2 linked regions of the Homo sapiens genome follow. The protein of the gene in region 2 purifies or fractionates together with the protein of the main gene of each other region. This does not show direct contact. Each region holds a gene or a part of one and is shown on either strand. Other genes may lie near its edges.

The links.
Region 1: the proteins of CCDC34 (region 2) and FAM76B purify together in Homo sapiens (affinity purification with mass spectrometry; one large-scale study listed by BioGRID and IntAct). This does not show direct contact.

What each region holds. Positions count from the first base shown.
Region 1 is NC_000011.10:95,776,104-95,779,929, forward strand, and holds part of FAM76B (protein FAM76B), read right to left. Parts: coding exon of another isoform or gene 3,824-3,826; coding exon 3,776-3,823; intron 3,585-3,775; coding exon 3,504-3,584; intron 3,033-3,503; coding exon of another isoform or gene 3,023-3,032; exon of another isoform or gene 2,975-3,022; intron 2,855-2,974; coding exon 2,719-2,854; intron 1-2,718. UniProt on the Homo sapiens protein: Negatively regulates the NF-kappa-B-mediated inflammatory pathway by preventing the translocation of HNRNPA2B1 from the nucleus to the cytoplasm.
Region 2 is NC_000011.10:27,349,540-27,353,365, forward strand, and holds part of CCDC34 (coiled-coil domain-containing protein 34), read right to left. Parts: intron 901-3,826; coding exon 793-900; coding exon of another isoform or gene 709-792; exon of another isoform or gene 1-708. UniProt on the Homo sapiens protein: Involved in spermatogenesis. Has a probable role in anterograde intraflagellar transport which is essential for the formation of sperm flagella.

The sequences.
Region 1 (3,826 bases), about 68 Mb from region 2:
CTCACATTTCATTACAAAAGTAGAAGATGTTAACTGCAGTTTCCTGAATTGTACAAGCTATCTAAAGTTTGTTTGGTGAAATGATGAAGTCTATCTGCTTCACAATAGTATAATTTTAATGTTAATACCTGACCATCAGTAAAACTTCTCAGTTTTCTTTTTTTCCTAAACATGGCTCGACTGGAAATAGAGTTTGGCAACTGGTATGCCAACGAAAAAAGCTTAACGGCTAATAACTGGGAAAATGCCTCATTTAAAAATGTACTTCAATAATAGTAAAAACAATATAAACATTTAAACTAGCTTATGCGTAAAATAATCTTTCAATGCTTAAAGAAAGAAATTTCACACTGGGTAATATAAAAAGGAATGGTCTTTTCAGCCAAAAGCTACACTGTTTTCATTTTTTAATTTATGTCCAGGATTATGTACACAATACCACCTAACACTTGAGGTAAAAATAGAGAACAAAGCACAGAAATACAACTAACACAGAATGAGAAAGGAAAGAAGGTTACTATAAAATTTGGGCTAAATTAGACAAATACAAGAAAAAAATCAGTGCTTTGAGGAAGAAGGCTACATGATAATTTTTCATAAATGACATACCTAACAGTATAATATCTCATGACTTCAAACTAAATAAGTTATTATGTAATTTCACTATTAGAACCATGCAGAGGGAACTCCAGGTTATTTTTTAATGTTTTTCATTATGCCAGCTTTAAAGGTTTACACATTCTCCTTTGTAATTACCCAGTATCTAATAAACTGAAAGACATACAACAGCAAAAATAGAGAAAATCATGGAGTCTTATAGTCTTATTAAAAAAAAAAACCCTTGCTTTTGTCAAATTCAAAGTATAACTAAGTTCTCTCTCTCTAACTTTCTCTAATCACAAAAGATTTTCTGTTCTGAAATGCCAACATACACCAGATCAGCTAAGACAATTACTCTATTCACTACACTGTGAGTTGCCTCCTCACTATGAACTTCTGGAAAATAAGAATTATGTCTTATTTATTCATCTTTGTATCCTCATGATCTAGTTCAGTGTCTGGCTCTAGAAATCATTAAATAACTTTGTGAAATCAATTCAGTAAAATAACTTCATCATCTTAGATTTATAAGAAAAAGTTGCAAATGTATAGTTATTTTAGGTTTACCATTAGGATTTTCCTTACAACAATGCTAATTTCAATCCCCATTAGTGTTGTGATTTTTTTAAAGAGGAACACTAACAAAAGCAGAAAACTTCAATTAACTGCACAATACAAAGATAGTACCTCTTATGCTAGAGAGGAAAGAAAAATCTAGCAGTCAATATTCTATAACTGATTACTACTTGGTTTTGAAATCATTGCTATTTTGCAGTAAAGTTGGCATTTTATTCAACTTTTCTCAAGGCTAATGCAGATATATCTGGCCTGTCTCTAAAACTTTGTACACAGGACAAATTTCCATAAAGGCTCATTAATTTAAAAAATGCTGTCAATCAAAAAGAACCATAAGACAAAGACACCCGTAACTATCCTATTTTATATGTCACTCCTAATTTTCATATACTAAATTTGCTTAAAGTAAGCTACAAATGTATTAAAATAAATTAAGCCCACTAACCATCAAGGTGTGGCAAAATGTATCAAAAATTACTGAATGCCAGAAGTAAAAGCCAACTCAGCACAGACTTAGAGATGGATATAAGTCATATATGTATTCATATTAAGGCCTTATTCTTTTAAAAGAAATGATTTTAGTGTTCTCCTACTGCATAATACATTTGATACAGGTCAAACTACATTGTCTGGGACCATAAAACAAGTACAAAAGATGATCAAACAGTAATAGCCCCTATGGGCACTTATACATACCAGGAGCTATAATAAATACTTTGCATTTTCATTAATCATCAAAACCATCACTTCAGATAATATTAATGCTCTCATTTAAATGAGAAAACTGAGGTCCAAAGAAGCACACATTCTGCTTTAGGTCACACAGAAAATGTTAGAACTAGGATTTGAATCTAAGTATGGCTAAATTACTTCAAAACTGTTTCCTGTTCCATGCCTGTCCACTATTGTGCCATCCTGATTTCATAGCACAAGACCTTAAATCCTTCTGTAATTCTGTTAATATTCCTCTTTTCACTAAATGAACAACACATTTTAATATTCCTCTTCATTTAACTGATGAAGTCCCAATAAGTACACTTACTTCCTACACAATGAGCTTTTAGACATCTATTGCTAATTACTATTACTGACTACTACAGGAAATTCCCATACCATTACTTTTCAGCAGTATTTTGATCTGGATTGATACAAATATATGACTGGATTGATACAAATATATGAATGTTATATCAAAGACTGTTCAAACTACATTCTTAAATCAAAAAAGTTTATGAAATATTCCATTTACATCTCATTTTTAATTAGGTATTAGATCTATTTTTAAATTACATGCTTACTGAAAATTAAAGTTTGGAAATTACTATCCTAATTAAGCCTCAGTTAATTCTTAGAACTAAAAATCTGAAAGACCATTTTTACCCATCTTCATTAGATGGCTTCAGGGGCTTTTGTAATTTGTCTTATAAAAATCACGCACAACAAACATTACCAAATTATTAAAGGAAGTCTAATAAAATTTGCGATTATCAAGCAACAGTCAACACATAACTCTTACCAGGCTTCAATGAACCATGTTCTTACCTTTTTATCTTTTTCTAAAATGGTCTGGTCTCTCTGCTGTAAGAGACGCTTAAGTGACATCACTTCTTCTTTCAATTGACTTATAAGGACAAAATTGTCTGTTCCCCCACTATCTGCTGACTGATTTATAGAGCTACTAAAAAGAAAAAAGTAAAACACAGTTAAATGAAGTAGAAGGAAAATTAGCAGGTGTTCAAATTGCATAAATTAGACAATTCCACAAACATCCTTAAGGCTAATGCAAAAAAATATGTACCTGACAGAAATGGATGCAACTGGCAAATTACCTTACTAATGGCACACATTACATACACCTGCAGAAATATAATTCAGTATTAGCTTTAAGGGGGTCAATACTTCTAGTGTAAAGCAATAGGCAGCCAATTTGTACAGTAACATCAGCAAACTTTTGGCTAATGAACTAAAACAAAGTAACGCTCATAATATTTTTAATCTAAAAACATTTTCTAAGCAGGTCAATTTAAAATATCACAATTAGATTTGTGTTTCACTGAAGAATAAAGATAAAAATAATGTTCTCCATTCAAATTTGTTTCTTCAAAACCCAAATTTATTTCCCAAATAGAACAACATAGTTCAGTGCCACTTTCTTATTGCCAAAATTAAGCTAAAAATTTTAAACTAATTTATGTTTATTCTTCTAGGTGACTCAAGTCAATGTAGAAAATACATGTTTCTATTTTTTTATCTAGTAATAACTGGCATTCAACCATAACTATTCAACTAAGTTGAATTTTCATAACACTAAAAGAATTCATTTTTACCTATCTCCATTAGATGGCTTAGATTCCAATTTGGGCTTTTTCTTTGGAGTTTCATTCTGAATTGTTGCAGAGGATTTATGGCTGAAACCAAACATTAATAAGAATAGTTAGAGTAAAAAGGACAGAGAAACCAAATGATAAGTTATTCATCTTCCCCTAAAATATTACTGAAAATACTGATTTTGGTAAGACTTAAGTAACAAAGTTGAAGGGATATCACATTTATAAATATACATTTCAAAATACTTCAGAAAATACAGCAATGTATTTACCTCTGTTTCCACAGTCCCTGCTCTTCTTCTGGACTTAGATTGCTGATTCTG
Region 2 (3,826 bases):
ACATTTGTAAAACTGGATTATAATAATAAAAGCAGTACCACTCTAAATATGTAAAAATCACAACAGAAGACAAATTGACCACAGAATAAGTATTTTTAAAATTTCGAATGTGTGTGATCCATAGAAGAATATATTAAAATTAAAAGGAAAAAATGCAGCCATTCAATGAACATCTTCACTCAATTAAACTATTTTTGGACATATATCATGCGCAGGTATTCATCTAGCTCCTGGAAAACTGAACAAAAGAGGCAAAAATCCCTGCCCTTATGTAGCTTACAATCCAGTATAAGAAGTAAACAACAAGTTGAAAGATATAATGGAAAGAGATCACAAACAGGGGAGTAGTAATTGTAAAGAAAAGGAGGAGATGATTAGGAACAACAGAAGAATTCTAATTAAGCCTTGATGACCGAGAAGACAGCTGAATGAAACAGAGAAATGGGAGGATGGATTTACGAAGGAGAAATGGGCAAAATGGGTTGTTTTAGATTTGCAGACTTGGAGGCACTTGCCATAAGGATCCAAAAGGTCAGGCCTAGAAATACAGACTTGGTGACTGCCTGCAGGCAAATATTAGTGCAAGCCACAGGAGGGAAAAAGGAGAAAAGTAGAGGGCAAAGGGCAGAAGATAGAGACTTGATAAATGTCCACCAGGATAGAAAAACAAAACAAGCCAAAGAAGAAAGACTCTAAGAGAAGTATTTTTTAAAACCTAGGTAATGAAGTATAATAGGAAGAAATATTTTGCAAAAGAGATGTCAATGTGTGTATCCATTTTCCCCTCCTTACTTGCTCATTCTTTTTCTGAACCCATTCCTTGTGCTTTTCTTCAGCAATTATCTTTCTTTTTTCACGTTCTTCCATTTCTTTTCTTTTTTCTAGTTGTTGATTTAATTCCTGTGGATTTTATTTAGACAAAAGGCAACATTTAATAGAAGTACCCAAATAACATACATTTTAAAAGTCTGAGGTTATTAACCAAATTAAACAAGAATATAGTTTCCTTTATGGAGCATATGCCACTAGTGGCAATAACTTACTTAAGTAACCAGTCTATGATGAAAAAAAGCATTGGTAAAAGTATAAGTCATTTTTTAGAAATGTGCAAATAATTGCTTGGCAGCAAAACACTAGTTTCCTAGACTAAACTTCAGCTAAATTACCCTCATTGAAATCAACTTTCCCACACATAAATTTTGGCATCACTCTAAGCTACTGGCAGAAGCTCAAGAGAATTGCAACTTTTTTTTTTAAACAGTTATAAGAAGCTTCTGGATTCCTGATGAAGATAAAGCATAGAAATTAAATAATCCCTATATTAAAAATTTAATTCAGTTACACAAAAGAAATACAAAGAAACCATTCAATTTTCCTTAGGGAAAAAAGAACCCAGAGTTTTCTTCACTGGTTTTATAGCTGCTGAAGTGTAAAACAAAATCACATTCATATCCCAGATTATTTAACTGCCTTGCTGTCACTCGAATCTACACGTTTGGGCATTTCCTCAGGAAAAAGAATGTGAAAGGTATGGCCAAATAAAACTACAAGTTGAATGCCACCACTCTGTCACTCATCAGTTAAATTACTGCATTGGTTTAGAATGCTGTTCAAACTAGACTTCACTAGGACTCCACAACCATAATTACTGGTTATTTTTCTTCTCCGTCTTTAGATACTAATAGTCAGATACCTTACGTATCTTCTGTTGGTCTCCACACTCCTCCATAGCCCTTTCTTTCCCAAAGACCTACCTACTTGGGCATGGGTGGTAGTGGGAAAGACAATTTTCCAACCCTCAGACTAATTCCAGTGTCTTAAATGAAGATAAAACTTGACACCAAGAACATCTCTTTTGCATTTTAAACAACTGGTCACAGGAAATCTGTCTTCCATAATCACTCATCCTAAAATTCTGCTGCATAGAAGATAGCCGCCCTCACTCAGGAAGTCTTCCAACTTTTAAACACTATACCCCCAAAAGCAAATATCCATCTTTAAGGATTTTTCATCACTTCAGCAGCTATTGTTCTTTGATGACTTACTCAGTATACTTTTATGGTACACCTACTATGGACCTAGCAATAACTGATATAAATCTGATATAAAGATGAAATCCCAGAAGTCTCTGATCTGATTTTCTATACACTAAAGAAATAAGTGCTACATTGCGAGTTATTGCATATCATAAAAGTTCAGAGAAGGGAAGGGAAGATGAGGAGAAACATCTTTCCTTCCCCCTAGCCTAGTCTACCAGGCTAGTCAGAAATGAGCACCATACAAGGAACAGTGAAAAGATGGCTTCGAAAGGAGAGAGATTGGGAGGTGGGAGGGGGTAGAAAATTTGAGCGTGGTACTAGGTAGATGGAGAAGGTCTTTTGAGACAGGCAAAGTAAAGTGAACTATATGAAACAAGAATACCCGGCAAAAGGGAAAATTCAGAGCTCTTAATGACAAAGGCTGAAGACTGCATTTGAAGGGATGAGAACTATTCTGAGGAAGACTGACGAAGAGTGTGCCATAGTATATGAGTTATAAGAAAAAGAAGGCCTGGGCCTCTGGGCCAGGCGCAGTGGCTCATGCCTGTAATCCCAGCACTTTGGGAAGCTGAAGCGGATGGATCACTTGAGGTCAAGGGTTCGAGACCAGCCTGGGCAAAATCGTAAAACCCTGTCTTTACTAAAAATACAAAAATTAGCCAGGTGTGGTGGCAGGCGCCTGTAATTCCAGCTACTGGGGAGGCTGAGGCCGGAGACTCGCCTGAACCTGGGAGGCAGAGGTTTCAGTGAGCTGAAATCATACCACTGTACTCCAGCCTGGGTGACAAAGTGAGACTCCATCTCAAAAAAAAAAAGGAAAAGGAAAAGGAAAAGAGGGTTTGGACTTAGGAAACAAAAGGGGGAAAAATTATACATATATATACATGTACACATACAAATACATGTGTATATATGTATGTTTATATGTGCATGTGTGTATATATACAAATATATAAATATGAAAGACATTAATTAATTGGCTAGATATAGACCTGACAACTACATATCAAAAATTTTCCAAAATAGTCCCAAATTTTATTTTCAAGAAAAGTAATTATTTAAATGTATAACTAAAGACATGATTGACTATATATTTATGTACCTTTTAAGATTCTTCATTTACCTAAACTAAAAAATCAGAAAAAAAGAAACCCTGTACTCCTATTTGATGGCTAACAAATTTTAGTTAATGTTGATTGAAGGGTTAAAGAAAAAGGGTCAAAATGTATCTAGAAAATGCTACCAATAACCCAAACAGTGTTCTAATCTTGGATGTCTGTTCAAGTAATTTGTCAAACCAGAATATACATCACATTTTGAGACACAACCCTCCCTTCCAAGTCTGGCCCTTCTTAGAATTTCCCACCCTGAATGACTCCATGTTTACCACAAAGGCCAGTCTCCTTCAGGACACAGCTGGAGTCTTCCTTCGAAAGGCCCCTACATGGTCTTCTGGTATACCACTGAATTTCAACAGGATTACAGATAGCTATTAATATTTTCCCGTGGAATACAACACTTGATTATGGAAAACCAAAATCCAAAGAAGATCTTAAACATGCATTTTTATTTTAATAGGTTTTGCCTACTTTCAAATAATTTTTTACCACTGAAGGTAATAATAATCAGAAAAACTGACAGTTTTGAGTTTCACCAACAGCTCTATATCCTGCCCTATTCGTTCGTTAAGGGCTCATTAAGGGCTAATGAATAAAATGGCCAAAGGCAAGATGGTTAAAAAAAAAAAGAAAAAAGAAGGCACCAGGACTACTCACAAACTAGGTAAT